Linked DNA regions of Homo sapiens. The protein of the gene in region 4 purifies or fractionates together with the protein of the main gene of each other region. This does not show direct contact. Each region holds a gene or a part of one and is shown on either strand. Other genes may lie near its edges. The genes, in order: SMARCAL1, GEMIN5, ACTA2, RPA3, RFC2, RFC1 and POLA1.

Region 1 (3,500 bases), on a different chromosome or scaffold from region 4:
ATTTCCCCATAAAGCGATGCATGCATGGTTCAACTGAGAATGACTGCAGGCCATTGTTTTCAGCTCTAGGCTGGGGGAGGTCCCTAGGAGTGATTCACATCCTCCTACTCAGGACCCAAAGACTTGGCAGACAGCTTAATGCCTCCCTCTGCTCCAGGGGTGAAGAGCCATGTGCTGGCATTACCTTGTAGAGGTAATCAGTGGATTCTGTCATTTCTGAAAAATTGGTCTCAGAAAGCCCGGCTTCTGCCAGAACTTTAATCTTCTCTTGAATCAGGGGCCTGTTGGGGAGAAATGAGCTGCAGTGAATACAACCTGCACAGAACCACCAGACTAATGAAAATGAGGCCACCCTCCTTGTTCTTATGGGACAACGGCTTGTTTACGGTTTCACATCTCTGCATCTCTCAAGGTGCAAACACCCATCTTGAAAAATTTGCCCCCTCTCATTTGTAAAAACTCCAATTTAGGGCTAAGAATATCATCAGGTTCAATATTCTTTCTAATGGAAGATGTGTAGGAAATAAATGCTGCCTCATTTCAACACAATTTTGAATCTGGTGGTATTATGAGCTGCCCAATTAACAAATCCACTAAAAAGGGGGAAGTAGGAGTGACCCACACACATTGCAAAGGGAAGACTCCTTAGTCATAAGGCTGGAAACAGAGACAAGCAGTGGAAACAAATGAGATAATCAAGAAATTTTGTATCAGGAAGGGGGAGATAAGGGGAAGAAGCTTTTTGAGATTTTTCACTTAGGTAACAGACAGAAAACCCTAGGGTTGAAAATCTTACTCCAGCTCTGCTAACGAAGTACACTACACAGTCCAGGGTAAGCCACTTTCTCCCTGTGGTCCAGCAGCAGCAATGTAAGATGTGCCCACCAGATAAATGCACATCATAAAAGGTAAAAGACTGTCACCCTGTCCTAACAAATGCCTTCACAGCTGGGAACAGGGTGTTTTACAAACTAAATTCCATCTATATTTTGTCATAATCAGCACTTCTCCCTGCCTCAGACCAGCAGCAAAAGGAGCCACAACCCCTTATTGCTATAAGATTCAGCATGCACCCTGCAAGCCACCAGTGAACGCTAGTGAGGGAGGCCAAATATGGTCATGATGAAAGCAGGAGGGCATCACTAGTCAATTTTCTATAGATCCTTAAAGACCTTACTTAGCAAAAGCAGAAGCACTTTGGGAGCAAAGTAAACATATCATCAGTTTCCACCCTTGCTCGACTCCAACTGCCAGGCCACCCAACCAAGCCATACCAAAGGTAGTCATCAGCTGTGCCCTTTGCCACGAGGTAGTGAATGCCCACGGAGCTGGTCTGTCCAATGCGGTGCACGCGGTCCTCAGCCTGGATCAGCACCTGTGTGTCCAGGAATTGAGACAGGCAGGTAAAGGCCTGAAGCAGTTCCATCCACCATAGCAGGTATGGTTCCTCTCCACCCCATTTCCAGTCCCACCACAACCCTCCCTCCTCAAAGCACTTCACTGTCTCAGACCTAGAAATAACCTGCACTTTACCATCTCAGACCTACAAATGACCTGCCACTTTAACAAAAGAGAGAACCCAAAACAGCCCTGGCTGGGGAACTGGAATCTGAAGCAGAAGATCTGCAGGTGGCTGTTCAGTGCTGGGCACTGAGCTAGGTGCTGCAAATGAAGAGGCACAGGCTCTGCCATCAGGCTGCATGGGGAGGGGCTGGTGATGGAGGCCTGCACACTTCCATTTCTTCACTGTATGAAATAAAAAGTTATCTTCTAAATAAATAAAAACATCACACACAAGGGAGAGGCTATCCATGATTTGGGCATAGGGTGGTGGTTTAATATAGTGGTAAGCCTTATAATAAATACTTAAGGGCTGGATGTGGTGGCTCACGCCTGTAATCCCAGCACTTTGGGAGGCTGAGGCAGGCAGATTGCTTGAGCCCAGGAGTTCCAGAACAGCTTGAGCAACATGGTGAAACCCCATCTCTACAAAAAATACAAAAATTAGGCATGGAGGCGTGCACCTGTAGTCCCCTGCTACTCAGGAGGCTGAGGTGGGAGGATCACCTGAGCTCGGGAAATCAAGGCTGCAGTGAGCCAGTAAGTCCCTGCAGTCCAGCCTGGGTGACAGAGCAAGACCCTGTCTCAAAAAAGCAAAAGAAAAAAAAAACCACCTAACATCATGAGCATTATTTCTTGTATAAAATGGCTACACCCTCAAGGTCTACCCATTATTAATGTAGTCTCTTATGTGTAGCCAATAAAAACCACAATATTATTAAATATTATATAAATATTAAAGGGGATATAACTTTTCTGGAGATTACCAGAAAAATTTAAGAGTTCAAACAAATGTCTTATCTCTGTCCTCAGTTGGTCAGGTGAGGCCAGTGGTGGTGTCCAGGAAACCCTCACTGCTGTCACTCTGTGTGAGGTCCATTGTTAAAGCAGCTCACAATGATGGCTACTAAAGGGGGCACAGGCTGGAACGTGAGGCCTGGGCTGCAACCTGGTGCCACCAAGTGCCCTCTTCAGTTATGGCAGTGCAGTCCTGCCTCACCCCTTGAGCTCTCGGTGCCCTAACTTCCTCCTATGAGACATGAAGTCAAGATTCCTTCTAGCCCTGGAAGACTTCAACCTTCCCGTTGATAAAATGGAGTCGATAATCCTACAGGTTGCTGTGAAAATCTAGAAAACAGCCAATCGCCTGGCGTGGTGGCTCACACCTGTAATCCTAGCTACTCGGGAGGCTGAGGCAGGGGAATCGCTTGAACCCAGGAGGCGGAGGTTGCAGTGAGCCAAGATCATGCCACTGCACTCCAGCCTGGGTGATAAGAGACTCTGTCTCAAAAAAAGAAAAAAAGAGACTAGTCAATCAACATAGAAGTGCTTAAAGGAAGTGAAAACTGACTTGTGGGAAGTATAATGAATGGATAAAAGGGAAACCACACTTTCCCCGACCGACACTCACTGCTTCCTGCCCACAGCCATGAGCATGCCTGGGGAGTATCTGAGTCTTCTGCGTCTCTTACCCCTGGGTTCCAAAACAGCTCAGCAAACACCACCAGGTCAGCCGAGGAGAAGGTGAGGCCCATATTGGCAGCGGTGATGGACAGCACGGCCACAGCATGCCTCTCCGACAGTTGGAACTGCTGGCACAGGTCCTCCCGCTCAGCTGATGAGGTGGAGCCATCGATGCGGATGTGCTGCACGTGCTGCAGGAACAAGGGGCAGAAGCAAGGTGGGCAACAGCCCCGGGGGCTTCTCAGCAAACCACACCCAGCCACAGCTCCAGCACAGAACCAGGTTCCAGCTCAGCAGAGGCCCCTGCCTTCAGAGCTTTTCTTTTCAAATTGACATTGGTATTGAGATGACTGCTTATACTCAGGTGCCATTGTAAGAAATAATAGAGATCCCTCTTAGGCCTTTGCCCAGTTTCCTGCAGTGGTAACATTCTATAAAAACTATAGTATAATACCACAGCCAGGATGCTGACTTCT
Region 2 (3,500 bases), on a different chromosome or scaffold from region 4:
TCTTATTATAAAATACCCAAAAATACCACATTCCTTACTATCACCATCAGTCTCATCAGAAAATTCTAACTTATGGGAAACTCAGGCACACAAGTGGTAGGTACAAGTTTTCTAAAATTCTAATTTTTGCTAGAAAACTCGCATTTTATCATTAGTAACAAATACTGTTGGTTGTTTTTAATGAAGTGATAGGCCTACTTTGTTCATTTTTGAGAAAAACATCTGCCAAATACCCAACACTGAATAACTGTTATTTATGTTAGTCATTTTTTTTTTTTTTAGAAGAAAGAAGGTTCTATGAAAAAGCAGCCAGTTTAGCTTGTAATTTGTTCATACAGGTGTTACCTAGAGACAACCATTCTACTTTGGAATGCAGCAGAGAACACAAAATGTTCTTCCCATTTGTCACACAGAATATTAAAGTGTTTTGGACTTGACGGATTTAGTAAAATTTGTAATTTTTACTGCTTCATTAAGGGCATTCTTCCTTTTTTTCCACTGTAAGAGCCACCGCCTTCCTTCTTAGATGCCAGGTTTCCCAATCACTGCTTTGGCACAATCAGTGCAAATGTCAACACATTTTTTTTTTTTTAATAAAAAAGCACATAACTGACTCTTAGCATTGTTACGAAAATAGTTTTAACCTCATGAACCCTCTGAAAGGTTCTTGAGGACCCCCTAGGAATCCACAGACCACAATTTAAGAACTGCTGATCTAAGTGAAGAAACGAATGCAGCATATGTTTCTAATTTGTCTATATAATGCAAGTGCAGTTTTTAAAGGAAGTTGGAACAATAAGACAACACAAAAGGGACAGTTTGTCCTGTCTTACAGCCCCTCCTAGGACCATACACAGAGGAGCCTTTTCAGATTGGCTAAAGGGTCTGTTCTTGCCTTTAGGGAAGCTATTGCGATTGCCAAGGCCCGGCTGCGCCCGGAGGACCCAGTCCTGAAGGACTTGTACCTCAGCTGGGGAACCGTCCTAGAAAGAGATGGCCACTATGCTGTAGCTGCCAAATGGTAAGCCTGAGGAGTGGAGGGATGCTTCCAACATAGGAGAGCTTCTGCCAGGAAGGGGAGGACAAGAATACAAGTAATAAGTTTAGAGGTGGAGGTAAAGCAGCAAGGAATTATTTAAAAGATATGTATATTCAACTTAGTTTCATAAGACTCATCAGGAACTACTTCCTGATTTATTTATATAAATCACTATAACTATTCAAGAAAAACCTCAGCAGCAGATTAAGAAATTATGCATTTTTCTAATGGTCTCTTATAACATCAAATAAAGGAACCTCAACCCATGCTGGATTGAACCCAACAGAGGAGTCATTCCCTCTCATTTTCCTTATGTCCTTAACCTATATGATATTGTTTCTCATACACTCTGCTGAGTTGTGTTGGCCTCAGCCTTCACAGGAACAACCGGGGCAGTGACATACCTGGGACCACAGGAAGGCACATGCAGCAAAGTAGATAGAAAGAAATGATTCCATCCTCTAGGAATGGGAATAAAAATCTGTTTGTGACATTTTCTTCACATTTTTATTCATATTATAGCTATTTAGGGGCCACTTGTGCTTATGATGCAGCCAAAGTTTTGGCCAAAAAGGGGGATGCGGCATCACTTAGAACGGCTGCAGAGTTGGCTGCCATCGTAGGAGAGGATGAGTTGTCTGCTTCCCTGGCTCTCAGATGTGCCCAAGAGCTGCTTCTGGCCAACAACTGGGTGGGAGCCCAGGAAGCCCTGCAGCTGCATGAAAGTCTACAGGTCAGTCTGTTATTTCATCTCCTAGTATACAAGAGGGAAGTGTCCCAAATCCTTTTCTAGTCAAATCCAAGTTAATAACCCAGTTGCACAAGCTGTGCCAATTTGGCAGGCCCAGCAAGCCCTGGCCATGCTATCCCACTGAAGTACTATGACTTGTTAGTTGCCGTATTCAGAGTAAGAGATAATATGGTCATTCACAGTAATTCCCATTGCTTATCTGTTTGTACAAAACACCTGTGAGCCGGGCACAGTGGCTCATGCCTGTAATCCCAGCACTTTGGGAGGCCGAGGCAGGCAGATCACTTGAGGTCAGGAGTTTGAGACAAGCCTGGACAACATGGTGAAACCCCGTTTCAACTAAAAATACAAAAATTAGCCGAGCGTGGTGGCACGCTTCTGTAATCCTAGCTTACTTGGGAGGCTGAGGCAGGAGAATCACTTGAACCCGGAAGGCGGAGGTTGCAGCGAGCCAAGATCCAGCCTGGGCAACATAGTGGGACTCTGTCTCAAAAAAAAAAAAAAAAACACAAAAAAAAACACCTTAGTCAGCCCAGGCCTTGGGTTGGCAGTCTAGGGTTTCTTCATTGATGTTATCAGCACTGTCTTCCTTGAAGAGAGAATGGTTGGCCTCTAACAGAAATCATGGAACTCTACCTGTAAATGCCCCTCTTAACTGTAAGCTATGGAAAAAAAACTGGGCCAGATGCAGCAGATCGCTTGAGATTAGGAGTTCAAGACCAGCCTGGCCAACATGGCGAAATCTTGTCTCTACTAAAAATAAAAAAATTAGCCAGGCATGGTGGCACACATCTGTAATTTGGCTACTTGAGAGGCTAAGGCAGGAGAATTGCTTGAACCCAGGAGGCAGAGGTTGCAATGAACCAAGATTGTGTCACTGCACTGCAGCCTACGTGACAGAGTGAGACTCTTCAGAAAAAAAAGAGAAAAGTGTGGGAAAATGGAAATCTCTTTATTTCTTAAATTTTTTTGTTCCCATCTGATTAAAAATCAGTAACATACCACTGCCTTTTTGACACATCAAAACAGATTAAAGCATTGGCACACTTACCTAGTTTCTGAAACATGTAAACATTTGATTCACTTTAGATAACTTTGTGAGATACTAACAAGAGGTTTTTTAAGTTCTTCATTCTCTAACAGAGTACAGGGCCTACAGATGGTTTTTAGCTGAATATTTAGAGCCCAAGGAACGTGGTACATGGGGAGGTAGCTTTCTAGGAACAGCAGAATAAAAATGGAGGTGAAAATAGGACACCCTAAAAGATAATGCCACTGGGCATTATTTATAAAATGACCAAGTCTAGAAAGATTTTAATTTATCCACCATCAAAAAAAGTTTCCAGAATGACTGTTTAGCATTTTATTTTTCTCTTAAACAGCATCCTTAACAAAGCAAAAAAACCTAATAAGCATATGCTAAATATTCTGATAAGGGCTATTTTGGTTTTGTGCAACAGAGACTCTTGCAAGCTTAACTGAGAAGATATTGTTATAGGAGTACACAAGGAATCTCATGGCAACTAAAAATCTAGTGAAAGTAGATTTTCTAGGCCTTCTCTGTGCTTCTGTTTTCTTCTCTCCCAGCCAGCTTCCTCTATTAAACCTATTTGGACATGGCTCCTAATGCCTGTCCCAGCTCTTGGATCTGCAAAGCTTGTCTATTCCAGCACCTTTGGCCCATTATGCTTTTATTCCTGAGTCCAAAGT
Region 3 (3,500 bases), on a different chromosome or scaffold from region 4:
AGGAACAATAATTCATCAGAAGCAACATCTCTTGCGACGTGCAGTGATTCCCAGGCCCACAGATGTTCCCCTGTAGAGAACAAGTGCTAGTGGGTTGGTGCAAGCACCAGGAGCTCTTCTGAGGAAAAGGCCTTGCAGTTATTTACATTTATGATTCTTCAATGCTGGAAGATCGTGGATCAATCCCAGGCTTTGCCAGTTCTAGCTGTGTGACCCTGGGAGAATTACTTAATGTATCTGAGCCTCAATTTCTTCATTTATGTAGTCAATATAATCATAGTTCCTGCTTCACATTGCTAGAACTTAAAGAGACAATGAATGTAAAATGCTGAGCCCAGTACTTGACCATAACAAGTATAGAATTGACACTAGACGTTGTTATTTAATAGCTCTTCCAAACTAGAAAACTCAGAGCTCTGTCTGGTGGGCTGGATGGGATTCTATTGTGAGGTCTTTAGCTTCAAACAAGTAATAATAATGACAATAGTAAGTACTATATTTTGGATGTTTATTAGGAACCATGATACACATCTGTCATTTCACCTCATTAATGTTCACATCAATCCTTGGAAAAATGATAGTATTAATATTACTCCCAACTTATAGACAAGGAAACTGAGGCTCTGAGAAATTAACGGAGTTCTTTAAGGTCACATAACTGATAAGTGGCAGATCCAGTTTTCAAACCTAGATATGTCTGACTCTGGAACCCAAATTCCTATTGTATGTGATGCTGCATTTTGAAGTGACTTCTCCTTAGACATTATAACTTAAACGTGGCCCCTTCTCAGTGAAATCTTTTAAATTTCCTATTGCTTTTGGAGGCAAAGGGCTGGTCCCTGCAGGAAGGATGCAAGTACTTTCAAGCTGTTCCTGTCCTTTGGGATCCCTGAGTTCACTGAAGGCTGTTAGTCTGTTGGTGGACTCCTAGCTCCGGCCTTCTCTCTGCTGTGCTGCATAGCCTCCTTCTAACAGAAGTTTCCCCAGACCCCACAGTGTTGTGTGCTGGGGTAGCATACTTACTTGAGTCATTTTCTCCCGGTTGGCCTTGGGGTTCAGGGGTGCCTCCGTGAGCAGGGTGGGATGCTCTTCAGGGGCAACACGAAGCTCATTGTAGAAAGAGTGGTGCCAGATCTAGTGAGTTGGGGGACAGAGGAGAAACACAATGATGTGCTGTCATGAGGTCCTGCATTTCCCAAAAAGGGACCAGAAGCTACTTGAAACCAAGACCAAAGGAAATGCTACAAGTACTCATGCATGTGTCCATGGTTTTATAGATGCAGAGACTGAAGCTCAAAGTGTGTAAGTACCTTCCCAAAGGATTCACATCTACTAAGTGACTGAGCAGAATCCCTAACCCAGATCTGTGAGGCAGGATGGTATGGCAGTTAAGGGCACAACCCTTGATCAAACCTTGGGTTCAAAGCCCAGCTCGGACACTTCTTAGTTGTGTGAGCTTAGGCAAGTTTTTAACCCTTCTCAGCTTCAGTCTCATGATTGGTAATAGGGAGATGAAAATAATTAGTGTGTACCTCATCGGGTCTTTGTGTAAATAAATAAGGTAACCCTCGAGTTATTGTCCAGCCCAGTGTCTGGTCCAGAATCAATGTTATTATTATTCAACTCTATTTTCTTTGTTCTCTCTTCCCATTTTAATGTTCATGGGAAAATGATTTAATTTTGTAAATAAAAAGACAAATGAATGTATATATGAATAAATGACGCTTACTTGAAAACCTAATTGACACTTTTAATGCTTCTAGAGAAGTTGCCCTTTGCAGTGTACATGAAGAAGAGAACAGGGCTCTCTGACTCTTGCCTCCATCACCCTCTTTGCTCTCGAGGGATGAGAAAAGCTTCCTCTATCAGCACACTCTGGATCTTCCACTCACAGTCAGACATTTGGCCTTCAGGTGTTTCCAAAAGGCCCACGCCTGTGTATAGTGTGTCTATGTGAAGGTACTTTGGACATAACTACATTTATTTATGGTTGAGCACTTTCTTTAATTCCTAGATGCCGAAAAGAACAAACCATTGCAAAAAGGACTAAATTAATTAATCTTTAAAAGCACGAAAATTCTCCACCAGAGCCAGGAATATGAGATTCACTCAAAATCAAAACAGAGCAAAACAAGAACTGCTGGTGAAAGCTTACAAATTAGCAAAACCAAGATTAGCTTTAAAGACTATCTTATTCCACTTTCTTTTGTTTTGGATTTGTGGTTTATAGAAGGGAAATGAAACTTCTGAAAGTTTTGTTTCTTTAGTGGAGTGAAAGCAGCAGACTGCTCAAAAAATCCTGCCAGTCACAGCAAGCAACCTTTCTCCTCTCTCTCTCTTCGTCCCCACCAGAAGATACTTTGAATTTAAATTTTAGAAATAAGGAAAGTTTTTTCTTCCAATAGTCTCTGTCTAGGACGATACATTCTAAGATGTTGTCAGCTCCATGGAGAAATTCTAAAAGAATATTTTCCTATTGATATTGATATCTTTTTCTCTGTGCAAACTGCAATCTTACCAAATCTAGAATCCTCAAGCAAACCTACTGATATGAAATTTTTGTAGAAAGATAGAGCTTGGAGCATTACTGCTGATAAATTCTAACAACATTATGTATTTTTCTTTTAAGTGATAAATTGTGTGCGTAGTAGTAGTAGTGAGCCGATAGATAAATAAAAGGCCAGATATCGTGATTCTGATATATCTTGCTGCATTTAAAATTTTTTATGTCACTTTCTCATTATTTCTTCTGTTTTTTTCTCTGATCACTGGTGTCTGTAATGTTTAATGACCAAACATCAAAATCTTAGAATTTAGCTCTTCTTCTCATTAGCTCTTTTATTAAGTGTCTGGGAGATAAGGCCTCATGTAATGCAACACAGATAAATAATTTTTAAAATATTTATCATATAGCTTTTTTCAGTGGCTCTTGTGCTTCAGTGTGTGGAGAGGCATTCAGAAATGTACCAAACCTGCAATGTTACACTCCTGTTTACTATAGTGAAAACAAAAACATTTTTAATTTAGATGTTTAGAGTGAGTTAATGAAAACCTTTCAAGAATGGGCTGTTTAAGACTACTCCCAGCATTTCAAGCCCCTTTAGCTATATTGCACTGAGAGGGATAACCATGCAGCCCCTGATGAAAATGAAAGGAGGGTTTTCATTCTCTGAGCTGCTGCTCATGCACTGCTTGTCCTAGGAGGGCAACAGAGTTGACGTGAGCAACAGATGATTAATTCCCTGCAGTGGCAAAGGGCTACTCTTCTCATCTACAGAACTATCATCCTTTAATTAGTTAATAAAACCTAATAGGCAAGGACATTTTTTTCCTTTTCTTTAGAGACAGAGTCTTGCTCTGTTGCCCAGGCTGGAGTGCAACAGCTGATGGTATGATCAGCTCACTGCAGCTTCGAACTCCTGGGCTCGAATGATGCTACCACCTCAGCCTCCTGAGTAGCTGGGACTACAGTTGCATGCCACCACACACTGTTAATTAAA
Region 4 (3,500 bases):
CATAAAGCTCATTATATTACCATCCTTTAAAACCATCTCAACCTTCCTTTGTTCTCTGCTTTTCTATATAATGAAGCATCAGTTGATCTTATGCCAAATAAATAAAAAATGAATAACAGATGGATAATCACTCAAACCTACCCACTCTGATGTGATTTTTGTTGAAATTTTATTGAACATATAGATTAATTTAGGGGAGAATTGCTATATTTACAATATTTAGTCTTCTTCAGAAATATATTTCTGTCCATTTGCTTAGGTTTCCTTAATACATTTTTGTAAAATTGCCATGCATTTTTCATAAAAATCACATTTCTGCTTTTGTCAGATTTATTCTTAGAGTGCTTTTTTGTTTTATTATTATAGTAAATATTTTTAAAGTTGTATTTTCTGTTTGTTGCCAGCATAGAAACATGTAGCTGATACTTGTAGCAACCATCTTGATAAAATATTTACTTCCCATAATTCATCTTTAGATTCTTTTGAATTTTCTAAGTACGTAATTATAACCTCTGTGAATAGTGAGTTTTGTTTCATTCAAATCCTTGTGGTTTCATTTTATCTTTTGGTCTTACTGCATGGTCTAGGACCTCTAGTATGTTGAAGAGAAGTGTCAAAGAAAACATCTTTTCCCCACTTTTGATTGTAAAAAGAATGCTTATAATGTTTGCAATTGTGAACTACTACATACAATACATTTTGTTTTTTTGGGTTGCTCCTGGTTGGCTAAAGGCTTATTGTAGAAACATAATAGGCATAGAGTGTTGTTAGAATTGGTATAAGATTTGATTTTAATAGAATTCACCTGTAAAAATTATCTTGGCCTCGTGTTTCTTTAGTGGGTAGCTTTTATGTACCGAATGAATTTGTTGATAATTGCAGACTAGCCTATTGTGTCAATTTGGTAAGATATTTTTCTAGGTGATTGCTCATTCAAAAAATATTCTAGGGCCGCGCGCGGTGGCTCACACCTATAATCCCAGCACATTGGGAGGCTAAGGCAGGCAGATCACAAGGTCAGGAGATTGAGACCAGCCTGACCAACATGGTGAAACCCTGTTTCTACTAAAAATACAAAAAAAAAAAATTAGCTGGGCATGGTGGCGTGCACCTGTAGTCCCAGCTACTCAGGAGGCTGAGGCAGGAGAATCACTTGAACCCAGGAGGCGGAGGTTGTGGTGAGCTGAGATTGCGCCACTGCACTCCAGCCTGGGTGACAGAGTGAGACTCCATCTCAAAACAAAACAAAACAAAAACAAACAAACAAACAAATCTAAGTTTATAGACAGAGTTTTTTTTTTTTTTAAATGATATCTTCTTACCATTTTTTAATCTCTGGGATTTTCATTATGTTCTGCTCCTCCCCCCCATGGCAATATTGTTTATTTATTGCTTTACTATTTATTTTCTTAGTGTTTTCAAAAGACCAGTTTTAGGATGTATTGTTCCTCTTTTGCATTTTATTTTCTGTTTCATCATTTCTTGCTCTTACCTTAATTATTTCCTTTTTCATTTTCTTTGGAGTTTATTTTGTTAGTTTCATTTTGACTTTTTAAGTTGGTTGTTTGTCCTTGGATCATCATTTTTAAGCTTTTAAAAATTCTAATATGTTCATTAATAATGCCCTGTATTTCCCTTTAAATGCTATTGAGCAGCTTCCAAATTTTAATTTGTATTATTTCCATTCGTTTGTCATTTTGCACATTTTTCTCTTTTCAAAAAATTAAAAAAATTTTTTCTAGAGGCAGGGTCTCACTCTGTCACCCAGGCTGGAGTGCAGTGGTGTGACCACAGACAGCTCACTGCAGCCTCGACCTCCTAGTCTCAAGTGATCTTCCTGCCTTGGCCTCCTGAGTAGCTGGGACTACAGGCATGTGCCACCACACCTGCCCCACACGTTTTTCATCGTCAATACTTCTTTGTTGAGTTATTTTTAAATGTTTTAAGATTTCCAAAAATTGAGTTTTTTTGTGTGTTATCTTTTTGATGAAGATTTTTAATTTAATGTCCTGTGGTCAGAGAGGGTGGTACAAATGATAGAAATTCCTGAAATGTGTTGAGACTTGATTCATGGCCTTTTCTCAAAGAAAAGCATATCAGTCTTAACTGACCTCCACTTATATGACTTTGCATATTGACCAGCATTTCCAACTTTTCTATAAATCCTTGGATGTTGACAGCATCTAGTTTATTCTCTGATGAGCAGACTTTCTTTGGCTGCTCCAGCAGAGTGCTGCTGAAGTGTCAAGCTGTTTGCTCCTAAATGTATGTACTTGTTTATTATAATTGCATGATTTAATTAAAATATGAATTAAGAGGTTGTACTTAAACATGAATAAAGAGGGAGTACTTATAGCTACGAAACTTTGTTAAATGCTTTAGAAATAATCTATATAGTTTAATTGCTAAAATAAAAAAGGAGCTGTCAATTTAGGTGTGGGTGAGATGACTTAGGATCTAGGAATCAGTGGTAGATTGATTTGTAAATATCTTTAAATTCTCATTTGCTTTAAAACAGTTGGAGGTTGTGTACAATGTATTATATGTTGGACTTACATAAGAAAGACTTAGAACTCCATCAGGTGTCCCTAACTGCAAATAAAGGCCTCAGCTGAAAACCTTCCTGGGGGAAGGTTAAAGCAAGTAACAGGTTGGAAGCTGGGAGAAAGTCAGGATTTAGGGTGTTGGGCACTTGTGTAGAGTAATTTTTTTATTTCCTCATGAACTGGTTGTTCAAAAATTTTTCTTTTTTTTTTTTTTTTTTTAGTTGATAGTAACACTTGCAGACCTGTTGTACCATGTGGTTGAACTAAGCAGAACAGGGGCACTAGAATTAAACAACAACAACAACAACAACAAAAAACTACAGAGGAATTACAGTTGCCATAGGCAGCAATGAAACTAGAACTAACCAACTGCAGTTTTTTGTTGTAGGCAAATCCACAAATCTTAGAACTTAAAAAAAATACTTTTTTTTAGTGTTTTACGAGATGAACTCTGAATTATAGAATATCTCACCATTAATATGCACCTTCAGCATAGAAACAGTTAAAGAAAATAAACTTACCTGAAACTATTGTATTCCCTGTGCATTGTCTTCACATCCTTTTTCTGAGTACCTGAGACAAAGTGAACTACAAGTAGGATAAGAACTGAAAAGTTTTCACCAGATTTATGAATACAGTTTCATCAATGATCTTGGTGAATAGTAGTAGCAGAAGAGTTGACCATAGACCTTATAGCTAGCTGTTAGAATAGCTAATTTAATGAATTTTTTCCCAAATCTGAAACTCAAAGCTACTGATAACCAAAGCTAGTTCCCTGATAAGTAACTTAGGGAAGTGCACTCTTATTTCAATAATTAATGCTTCCATGAAATTATATAAACATTCATGCATTCCGACAATATCTGAATATTTCTGTGTGCTAGGTGCTGTGCTGGGTGTTGGGTATGCCATTATGAACAATACAAAGAAGAGCTCTGTTTTCATTCAAATGAG
Region 5 (3,500 bases), about 67 Mb from region 4:
ACAGGTGTGAGCCACCATGCCTGGCCAGTTTCTTTCTTTCTTTTTTTTACTGAGACCAAGTCTCTCTGTTGCCCAGGCTGGAGTGCAGTGGTGTGATCTAGGCTCACTGCAACCTCCACCTCCCAGGTTCAAGTGATTCTCCTGTCTCAGCCTCCTGAGTAGCTGGGATTACAGGCGCACGCTATCACACCCGGCTAATTTTTGTATTTTTAGTAGAAATGGGGTTTCACCATGTTGGCCAGGTTGGTCTCGAACTCCAGACCTTAGGGGATCCACCTGCCTCGGCCTCCCAAAGTGCTGGGATTACAGGCATGAGCCACTGTGCCCTGCCAAATCAAGACCTAGGAATGCATTTTTCTCCATTTCATTGCTGGCATCTGCAAAGTGGAGAATACTTCTCATTAAACTCCACGAGCTCTCCACTAGCATGGTGCCTGGCGGCTACTAAGAACCAGAGTTAAGCGTTCGGTGAATGGGTTAATGAATCAATGCACAAATCAGTGCGATTTTGGGAAGGGAAAAGAATGCAAAGGATTCTTGACACTGCTGAGAGCCCCACCAGGGCTGGTAGCCATGACTTTGTGGGTGCCATATTTGGTAATGCGCTCGTCGGCAACAGCGGCCTGGGTGGCAAGGGGGTTGTCAGATGGATGAGCTCATATGGTTGGGGTTCAGCAGGGCAGAAGTGAGGCAAAGAAAGCGGCTGAGAGAGCAATGAAAAATGAGGAAAGAGGACAGCTGGGCTGTGCAGGCAGCCTGTGTCAGAAAGAGAAGGATGGGCCAGCCGTGGTGGCTCACGCCTATAATCCCAGCACTTTGCGAGGCCGAGGTGGGCAGACCACTTGAGGCCAGGCGTTCTAGACCAGCCTGGGCAACATGGTGAAACCTCGTCTCTAAGAAAAATACAAAAATTAGCCTGGCATGGTGGCACATGCCTGTAATCCCAGCTACTGAGGAGGCTGAGGTAGGAAAATCACTTGAATCCAGGCAGCGGAGATAGCAGTGAGCTGAAATCGCAACACTGCACTCCAGCCTGGGCGACAGAGCGAGACTCTCTCTACAAAAAAAAGAAAGAGAAGGATGTGAAACCAGCAGGAAGTTGACAGACTAGAGCACTCTTGGGACCTGGGGCGGGACAAACCCATGCAGAAGCAGACAGGCTGCAGGGAGGGAGGTGGAAGGGCAAACAGTAAGGTTAGAGAAAAGACGGACTGCAGGATTTGAGAGAGGAGCTTCCCGGAGGCAACAAATTCCAATGTACAGATACTGCCTATACCAAGTACTCAGAGCACATGAATAGCACAAGAAGGTATCTGGAGAGCGACTGTGATCGTGACACCGTGCAGGGGACATCAACAACATCCTTGTGCCTCCAAGAGTGCAAGAGGGTGATAGAACTGGGGCTCCAATCCCAGCTGCTCTTGCACTTGCTCTGACTTTGGGGAAACTACTCAACCTCTCCAAGCTCGTTTTCTTTCTCTTTTTTCCTTAGATCCTAAACATCAGGATAAGCTCCAGTTTTCTCATCTCTAAACTGAAGCGAATAATACCTCCTCATAGGATTATGTAAGATTAAATTTAAAAGTTGATTACAATGGGAAACATGTGCATAATATATACAATTTCTCCTTGTCAATTAAAAAAATATAAATTTAAAAACTTGATTATATAGTGCTTGGCCCATGCTACACAATAAAAAAATCCCTACTCTTCCAGCGCTAAAGAGCCAAGGCGAGGCCAGGTGCAGTGGCTCACATCTGTAATTCCAGCACTTTGGGAGGCCGAGGCAGGCGATCACGAGGTCAGACGTTTGAGACCAGCCTGGCCAACATGGTGAAACCCCATCTCTTAAAAAAAAAAAAAAAAAAAAAAAATTAGCTGGGTGTGGTTGTGCGAGCCTGTAATCCCAGCTACGCAGGAGGCTGAAGCACAAGAATTGCTTGAACCTTGGAGGTGGAGGTTGCAGTGATCTGAGATCGTGCCATTGCACTCCAGCCTAGGCGACAGAGTGAGACTTTGTCTCAAAAAAAAAAAAAAAATCCAGGTGTGGTGGCACAGGCCTGTAGTCTCAGCTACTGGGAGGCTGAGGCAGGAAGACCACTTGAGCACAGGAGTTTGAGGCTGCAGTGAGCTGTGATGGCACCACTGCACTCCAGCCTGAGCGAAGAGGGAGACCACATCTATAAAAAAGAAAAAAGCCCAGTTGAGCACCACGTGGCCCCCAGCCACCGAAAGCTCCCACTCACCGATGATCTTATCCGAAGCATTACAAGCAAGGGCGAAGCGAGTGGTTTTAGAGTAGATTTCCATGGTTCTCCTCAAGGCTTGCTGGGCTCCGTCGGTCATGCTGAGAAGAAAAACACAAGTTTGCAAGTGGGACCCAGAGACCATGTGACACAAATCGTTCCCTATACAAAAACCCAGGACATAAGACACATCCAATGTCCTAAATGAGGGTCTCATTGGAAGTACGCAGGCCATCCCTCTAATGCTAACACCTGCAGGCCGCTCTCTCAAAGACTGTGCAAACAGCATTTAGTACCTACAGCATCAGAACAACCCTCAAGTGAAACTCACGAAAACCACGATCTACAAGGGCTGCCATCACACTTGTGGGAATTGGTTCTCTCCAGTCCTTCATGACACAAATTCAGGAGAACAATCATGACACCAGCTGCCAACTTTTCTTTCTTCCTTTTTTATTCTTTTTTTTTTCTTAAAGAGACAGGTTCTTGCTGTCACCCAGGCTGCAGTGCAATGGTGGAATCATAGCTCACTGCAGCCTCGAACTCCTGGGCTCAAGCAATCCTCCCATCTCAAAAGGCTGATGCGGGAGGACCGCTTGAGACCAGGAGTTCGAGACCAGCCTGGGCAACAAAGTAAGACCTCTATTTCTACAAAAAATTTTAAAAAATACAAAAAAGCCTGTTTACCAGATTATCATAATGTAGAGCAATGCCTACAACATTAAAAGGAAAAACCAGGATACAAAAATTATATATATTATGATCTCAACTGTGTAAACATTGATAGTATATAAAAAGAGAAGAAAAAAAGCAAGTTATTAATGGCCAGGCATAGTGGCTCATGCCTGTAATCCCAGCACATTGGGAGGCCGAGGCAGGTGGCTCTCTTGAGGTCAGGAGTTCAAGACCAGCCTGGCCAACACAGCAAAACGTCAACTCTACTAAAAATACAAAAAAAAAAAAAAAAAAAAAATTGTCTGGGCGTGGTGGCGCACGTCTGTAGTCCCAGCTACTCGTGAGGCTGAGGCAGGAGAATCACTTGAATCCAGGAGGCAGAGGTTGCAGTGAGCCAAGATCATGCCACTGCACTCCAGCCTGGGCAACAGAGTGAGGCTCCACCTCAAAAAAATAAATAAATAAAAAGGCAGCAAACTATTAATATATTCTAAATTTTCTTCAAAGAACATGAATTACTGCCACATTAAAAAAAAAAAATTTTTTTTTTGAAACAGAGTCTTGCTCTGTTGCCCAGGC
Region 6 (3,204 bases), on a different chromosome or scaffold from region 4:
GCCACATCATCGGTGGCTCCAATGAAGACTCAACCCCAATACAGACCATTCAGATTCACATCCAAACTGCTGCAGAACCACCAACTGCCTCCTACCATGAATCTCACTCATTCACCTCATGGTCACGAGGGCTTCAAAGAGGAATCAGACCTATGCCATCCTCATAAAGGGCATATTTACAATTTCTAATTCTAAAAGAAATGCTATTAATTTTACACACATATTATCCCAATCTTGGGTTTAAAACATTTAAAATTACAAACAAAATCATAATGAACAAGTGAAGGACACTATGCCGCATCCTGGCTGCATGGAGATTCAAGTCTCTCTCCTGGGGGCTGCAGAAGACCTAGGGAGACGTGACTTGCATATCCAAAAGGCATAGAAATGGAAGAACATGAATAGGAAAGCCAGCCTCACCCTACTGGTGAGAAAACCTTTCCTGAAGCATAAGAATTTCAAGATGGACTTTAACAAAGACAGGGTCGTGACTCAGCAGGCAAGGGCTTAGGCAATGTTTTATTTCCATAATGAATTAATCTCCATAAATGACATTTTTCACACTGGTAAATACAGTTTAAATGTCTCAAGAACTTTGTCTCATCACCCAAACAAGACTACCAGTTCCTTAAAGCAGGGAATACGATCCTTATTTTACATTCATTTTAGTATATACCTCACAGAGGTAGCACAGACCTCTGAGCATTTACCAACAAGATTAAAAAATAGCTAGACATCTAAATTCCAGGCTAGGTCCATAGCCTCACGGCCACTCAACACATACAGTTATAGGAATAACCCAAACTTCCAACAGGGTTTGTGGAAGCCATCACAGGACAGGACTAGATCTCTCAGGGGCAAAGTGAACAAAAGCCAGTGTTCATTTTGTCCCCCACCATAGTGAAATTAAGAGCCTGACCCAGCCTGGTTCCTACTGGTCTGAACCTGATGGGTTGAGACTCCAGAAGGATAAGAATGTCTGAGAATCTTCTGCAGCCCCCCACGCTGCAAAGCCCCATAACAGACCACTGCATGAAATCCTATTCACAGCAGAGACGTGGTCAACACACACAGAGGGAGTGAGGCTGGGAATCCGAGTTCTGACTCCTCGACTGCCAATGTTATGTTTCACACAACAGGTTAGTAAGGAATACAGTGAGCTTTTTTAATCCAATCATTTGCAAATTAATAAGGAAGTAATATACCAACATAATATTTTGCTGTACAAGATGACAATCTTAAAAAGAATTTGTACACATATCATGTGGAACATTTTTATTCCTAATTTATACTTTGAAAGATATCTGACAATGTACAAAGAATACCCAGTTCTAGGTGGTGACTGTTTTGTATAATCATTTATTTACAAAATTTCACCACATAATAGGAACTGCCTTTAAAAAAAATCAGCATTGGTCCTATAAAGGCCATTAGGATAAATTCTTAAGCCTACAAAAGACGCCTTAGTACTACTGCTCCCAGGCTCATTATTGTTAACTAAAATCTGACTCCAAAGCCCAGGTGTAGTTTCTAGTTCCAATTCTACAGTCATTCAGAAGCACGTCTAACTAGATTGACAGAGGACAGTGGAGGACCCAAGCAGTCCTATCAACCTCTATAAGAGGTGTACATAAGCCTACTGCTCATACCCTTCTAGCCATACCACCCTTTATTTATAATGGGACACCAGGTCATCCCATTATGCTAAAACATGGTTGCTCTGGGAAAAAACAAGGCTTTCTCTAGACCAGCTGGACTGGTCAGGAGGGAGAGTAAAAAGTGGCTGTCGCTAGTGAAAAATGGTTTCATTTCTTCGAACTTTTTCCTTTTCCTTTTCTGGGCTCCTTATCTTTTTCTGGTTTTGAAGGCTTTGAAGATTTTGTCTTTTTCTGTTAGGGGGAAGATAACAAAATAGTTAATAGCTGTGTTTATGAGTAAATGAAATAAGTTCATCTCTATAACAAATCTAATCTTTACCTGCAACTTAATTAAAAAAGAAGAGAGGCTGCAAACATCGAGATCTTGAACTACTGCAACCCATGAAGCGCTTACAGCAACAACTGCGCCACTTACAGCCTTTAAAAGCTGGCAGTAAAAACTTTTAGTTTAGAATTTAGAACTAGGATCCGTTCCCCATGTAAGACAGTTTCTTGGATTTAGAACAGAGGTATACTTAGGAAAGACAAAATAAGCAAGAGGTAATTGACAAATAGGGTAATGTTTAGATGAAGAATTTCCTCTTCTTTCAGTTTCAGATTAGAGGTGTAAACAGTCATTTTGTGAAAGCAGAAGAGAGGGAGAGAGGAAGACCACCTGTTAGGGTCGACATGGGAGCCACAGTGAAGAAGGCCACTATTCCTACTCCTGCATACAGAAAACAGAAATGAAGGGCAAGAAGCACCCACACCCAGCGAAGGACAGAGGAGGATCAGATGAGGTTCCTTGGCTCAGCCAGCTGTACACAGCAGGCTGATACCACAATTGGTTTTCATATTTCCCATCAAAAGACAAGAATGTTTTGCTCTAAGAAACTTCTACAAAGCAGTTTAGTGGCTATAGCAAAACATAAGCAACAGAAGAAACTGTTTTGTTACAAACATTTTTCTTGAAAGCATACACCAATGGCTAGATAAATAAAAATGGTACTTTTTCTAACAGAACATATGGCCGTCAATATCATGGCCTGTTTTCTTGCTGTTTGGCTCTTCGACTACCATAAGAAACTTTATAAAAATGAAATCTCTACCTTCTCCACCCTCAACCATGATGAACAAAAAAACTTAAGAAGTATTTTCAAGTTATTCTGCTATGTGCTGAAAAGGCCCTATTATTCACCAGGCAAGGAAAGATCATCTATTTTGAGGTTCTCCTGTCTGTGGCTTAAAATACTACCTTGATCATGGCATCAGTTTCTATAGCATCTTGGTCTTTCTCATCAGATTGAGAGTCATCTTCATTTAATTCTTCATTGTATTCCGAATCCAGGGATGGGCTTGTGCTGTGTCTAGATGCCTTTATAGCTTGAAGTGAGTATGGAGTAAGGTGGGCTTCCTTATTGTAAGCTCTTGTGAAGGCTGCTTTCACCTATATGAAAGGAGTAGATGGAGTTTTTAAAAATCTAAGTCCCAAACAATTCTTTTAAACTCTGTAAGCCTAAAGAGACCCTGGGAGCCCCCTGCAACTGTTTGCAAAGTATTTATGTAT
Region 7 (3,284 bases), on a different chromosome or scaffold from region 4:
AAGACAATTTGAAAGTTCTAATGATCTGAGTCTGGGAATAAACAACAATGGCCCCAACCAGTGTCGGCTGCCTCCCGGCAGGCCAGAGCCACAGGCCAGCAACCCCGTGCATGTGAATGACACAAATGCATCTGATGACTGGGGAGAGCACATTTAAAGAGCTGCGGTAATACGGAGCAGGGGAGGAAAAGAGAGGACATAGCTCCTGATGTGTTTACCTCCTCTGCTGATGGGATATTGACTTTTCCCACCAGGTTGGTTAGAAAGGGGACTATTTACGCTGCCACACAGCAGAGTTAGAATGACAACCAGCGTCACTCGGTGCTCTTCCTCCTAAAAGACAACTGTGACCGCCAGCATATCCCATAGCCAGTCAATACGGCCAAGGCACCATTCCACGCCAGTTAGAGATGCAGATAAAAGCTCCCACTTGCTTCCCCAAAGAGAATTTAATCAATAACATATGGAAGGTCTTCTAGGAAACAGAACTGGACTAGCTGTCACAGGCTGCGTCAGGGACAGGGGCTGGTGGGGGGAAGGAGTCACCCCTTCCTGGTTTTTCTCTTCCCCCTTTAGGCACCTGGGCCACCCACGTTAGGCCTCACATTAAACTGTTACCCTGTTTCTGTCAATACTATATCCACCACTTTAGAACTCAAGGGAAAATACAGGTGTTAACTGGTGGAGGCCAGTTAATGTGGCCAGTAAAACCCTGATTCCTTTTCCTGCTTTGATTTTGAGAGTCAGCCTATCAGTAACGACGCCATCACCTCAGGTGCTGCAGGTCAGGTGCCCAATAACAACTGTTAAAAGATTCCAACATGCCATTAGGCAAGAGCCAGAGAAGATCCGCAGCCATCCCATCCCTGTCCACAGAGATGCCACTGGCCCTGGTAACTGCTGTCTCCGCCACCAGCACCACAAAGCCAACCTTTGTCGAGATCGGGGAGGAAATGCTCTTCCTACACACAAGTGCGTCACTGAAATATACTCTAATGGCTTGAAGTATCACCCAGAAATCACTCATCTTAATACATCAGCAAAGCTAATCTCCTTTTTAAACTTTTCTTGAGAATAACATTCGAGGAACGTGTATATAAAGCTTATTTACTCTGATCCTTTCTACATGCTCTGATTCCCTGTGGTTATATGTTAATTACCAAAAATATTCTGTCCCTAACCCCTATGAAAACGATGGAAAAAAAGGGTAGCCTAGATACTAATTATTCACAAAATATTTTATCAGACTACAAAATGAACTGCTCATTTAAAAGTTGATTTCTATTGATTAGAATCTAAAACCTCAAAATAATGAAAGTTACATTCTTTTCTATATGGGATGAACTAGACCATCATCTGTAGGTTGACCTTTCTTAAATATTTTATATAAAAGTCAACTGATCAAATAAAATGCTAGCTCTATTAAAATAATGGAGTATTCTCCCATCTAAGGAAACTAACTCTACTTCACATATTTTAGTTCCATGTCAGTAAACCAAAAATCTCTTTTCAACTTTACTCTTTATAAAACCCTTTTTGGACTTAAAGAAACACACTGAACTAGAAACCACGAGGCAAAGACATTTTAACATCGCCTACTGGTTATTTTCTTTTAATTAAGGCAGGCTTAGGCACACAGGCAGCAGCCGTCTCTGTTCTGAATGTCTGTTTCATTTATTTCTGTACAAAGGTATCAAACAACAGTCAGTTATAATTGATTCTGTCAGGTGTTATACAGTCAGTCATAATTGTCTCTGTGTAGAGGTGTGTCAATTTACTATATCTGAATTAAATATTCTGTCAATTATGAAATCAGGTAATAATTTCAGTCAGTTTTTTAATTGCATGGCTTCCCACCATACAGTTCTCAGTTCTCCCACCTTTTCCAATCCATAGCCTCCCTCCCTCAATGCAACGTGAGCTTTGCAGTAAGGGGTGGAATGCAGGAAGCTTTAGAAAAATTTGAAAGAAAACTGCACCCCTCTACGCTCTCTACACGTAGAGCCATCCGACCTACAGAGAGCTGCTGGAGCCTCTGGCCTGCCTTTTTCCTGAATATCGATCCATATAACTGAGCTTCCGGCTATGCACAGTACCTGAAAGATTTCAAGTGACATCCATATTTTAAACTCAAAGACATTTAGGGCCCCAAATCAAATGGCAAGTACATAAACATTTCTCAAAGTAAGAAATGAAAAGAAATAATCTTTGAGTCAATTCTTATTTAGAAAAAAAAAATTCACAAGGCACAGTGCCAGGCACACACAGTGATCAATGTGTCTATCAATTAGCCAATGCCTAGAGGACCATTCTCACCCATTAAATCACATCTTAGATGCTAAAATATTTCTGAAGGCTTGAAGAGTCTGTTAGTCCACTATCCAGTTCCATTCCTACTTAGAAATAATTATCTTCAGTTTTCTTTCTTTTTTCTTCTTTTATGTTGATACCAAAATACAGCCTTCAAGAAGAATAAAATATCCATGGTTTAGCTCAAGTGCTCTACTAGGCTGTAGGCTGATCTGACAAGTATTTAGAAGTGTGATTATAATTCTCTCCACCATTGGTCTGGTTCATGTTCAATAAACACAGGCTTGCTGCAGCCTGGTGGTGGTGAACAGTGACCCTTCACACTCAAAGCAAATGGAGGTGCCATGGGGCCCAACTACCAGGAAGGGTTGTTCAGTGGAAGTTTGGGGAAGAGCAGAGGCCGATGCGAGAAGGGAGGAGACAGAATAAAGCAATGTAAAGAATGCCACTTCTATAGACAAGAATAGAAGGTAAGAGTCGTGCCCCTTACCATGTTTCAGTGGCAAAAGAGTCACCTTGAAAGAGATAAAAAATTTCCTTTCAACTGGATGAAGTGATTCTCTCAGGGTTGGGTTTTGGGTGTTTGCATTTGTCATGTCGGAAGAAAATTGCCCATGCAGCCCCCTTGCTGAGGTTATAAAAAGTACTGTCAACCATACTGGACAGAATTTTTTTTTGGGTGGGTGTGGGGGGGGAGGTTGTAGAGAAGGAAAAAAAAAAAAGAAACACATTGTGCAGGATCATTAAGCACTGTTGTATAAATAAAGTTAGAAGATCAAACGAAAGAGGGGACTCGGGTTAAATGCTGGAAGACAAGCTTAAATAAAGTTCTAAGAAAAAAGCAAGGCACGCTGTAATTCCAAGAACCTATTACTTCAGACAATTTACTTCAAAAAATAAAATCAGAATGGTAAATGATTACCAAAAAGCAATCATGTCATCATCACTGAGAGATGGAATAAAATAATTTTTTG

What was found.
Region 1: the proteins of RPA3 (region 4) and SMARCAL1 purify together in Homo sapiens (affinity purification with mass spectrometry; 3 studies listed by BioGRID and IntAct, with this or other methods). This does not show direct contact.
Region 2: the proteins of RPA3 (region 4) and GEMIN5 purify together in Homo sapiens (affinity purification with mass spectrometry; 2 studies listed by BioGRID, with this or other methods). This does not show direct contact.
Region 3: the proteins of RPA3 (region 4) and ACTA2 purify together in Homo sapiens (affinity purification with mass spectrometry, with the first as the bait; one large-scale study listed by BioGRID). This does not show direct contact.
Region 5: the proteins of RPA3 (region 4) and RFC2 purify together in Homo sapiens (affinity purification with mass spectrometry; 2 studies listed by BioGRID and IntAct, with this or other methods). This does not show direct contact.
Region 6: the proteins of RPA3 (region 4) and RFC1 purify together in Homo sapiens (affinity purification with mass spectrometry; 3 studies listed by BioGRID and IntAct, with this or other methods). This does not show direct contact.
Region 7: the proteins of RPA3 (region 4) and POLA1 purify together in Homo sapiens (affinity purification with mass spectrometry; 2 studies listed by BioGRID, with this or other methods). This does not show direct contact.

The regions. Positions count from the first base shown.
Region 1 is NC_000002.12:216,474,984-216,478,483, reverse strand, and holds part of SMARCAL1 (SWI/SNF-related matrix-associated actin-dependent regulator of chromatin subfamily A-like protein 1), read right to left. Parts: intron 3,216-3,500; coding exon 3,033-3,215; intron 1,376-3,032; coding exon 1,275-1,375; intron 282-1,274; coding exon 185-281; intron 1-184. UniProt on the Homo sapiens protein: ATP-dependent annealing helicase that binds selectively to fork DNA relative to ssDNA or dsDNA and catalyzes the rewinding of the stably unwound DNA. Rewinds single-stranded DNA bubbles that are stably bound by replication protein A (RPA).
Region 2 is NC_000005.10:154,896,712-154,900,211, reverse strand, and holds part of GEMIN5 (gem-associated protein 5), read left to right. Parts: intron 1-901; coding exon 902-1,021; intron 1,022-1,561; coding exon 1,562-1,772; intron 1,773-3,500. UniProt on the Homo sapiens protein: The SMN complex catalyzes the assembly of small nuclear ribonucleoproteins (snRNPs), the building blocks of the spliceosome, and thereby plays an important role in the splicing of cellular pre-mRNAs.
Region 3 is NC_000010.11:88,942,774-88,946,273, forward strand, and holds part of ACTA2 (actin, aortic smooth muscle), read right to left. Parts: intron 1,135-3,500; coding exon 1,024-1,134; intron 1-1,023. UniProt on the Homo sapiens protein: Actins are highly conserved proteins that are involved in various types of cell motility and are ubiquitously expressed in all eukaryotic cells.
Region 4 is NC_000007.14:7,712,108-7,715,607, forward strand, and holds part of RPA3 (replication protein A 14 kDa subunit), read right to left. Parts: intron 3,120-3,500; 5' UTR 3,068-3,119; intron 1-3,067. UniProt on the Homo sapiens protein: As part of the heterotrimeric replication protein A complex (RPA/RP-A), binds and stabilizes single-stranded DNA intermediates that form during DNA replication or upon DNA stress.
Region 5 is NC_000007.14:74,240,900-74,244,399, forward strand, and holds part of RFC2 (replication factor C subunit 2), read right to left. Parts: intron 2,348-3,500; coding exon 2,247-2,347; intron 1-2,246.
Region 6 is NC_000004.12:39,286,956-39,290,159, forward strand, and holds the end of RFC1 (replication factor C subunit 1), read right to left. Parts: intron 3,085-3,204; coding exon 2,893-3,084; intron 1,890-2,892; coding exon 1,806-1,889; 3' UTR 501-1,805; downstream 1-500. UniProt on the Homo sapiens protein: Subunit of the replication factor C (RFC) complex which acts during elongation of primed DNA templates by DNA polymerases delta and epsilon, and is necessary for ATP-dependent loading of proliferating cell nuclear antigen (PCNA) onto primed DNA.
Region 7 is NC_000023.11:24,990,918-24,994,201, reverse strand, and holds part of POLA1 (DNA polymerase alpha catalytic subunit), read right to left. Parts: intron 1-3,284. UniProt on the Homo sapiens protein: Catalytic subunit of the DNA polymerase alpha complex (also known as the alpha DNA polymerase-primase complex) which plays an essential role in the initiation of DNA synthesis.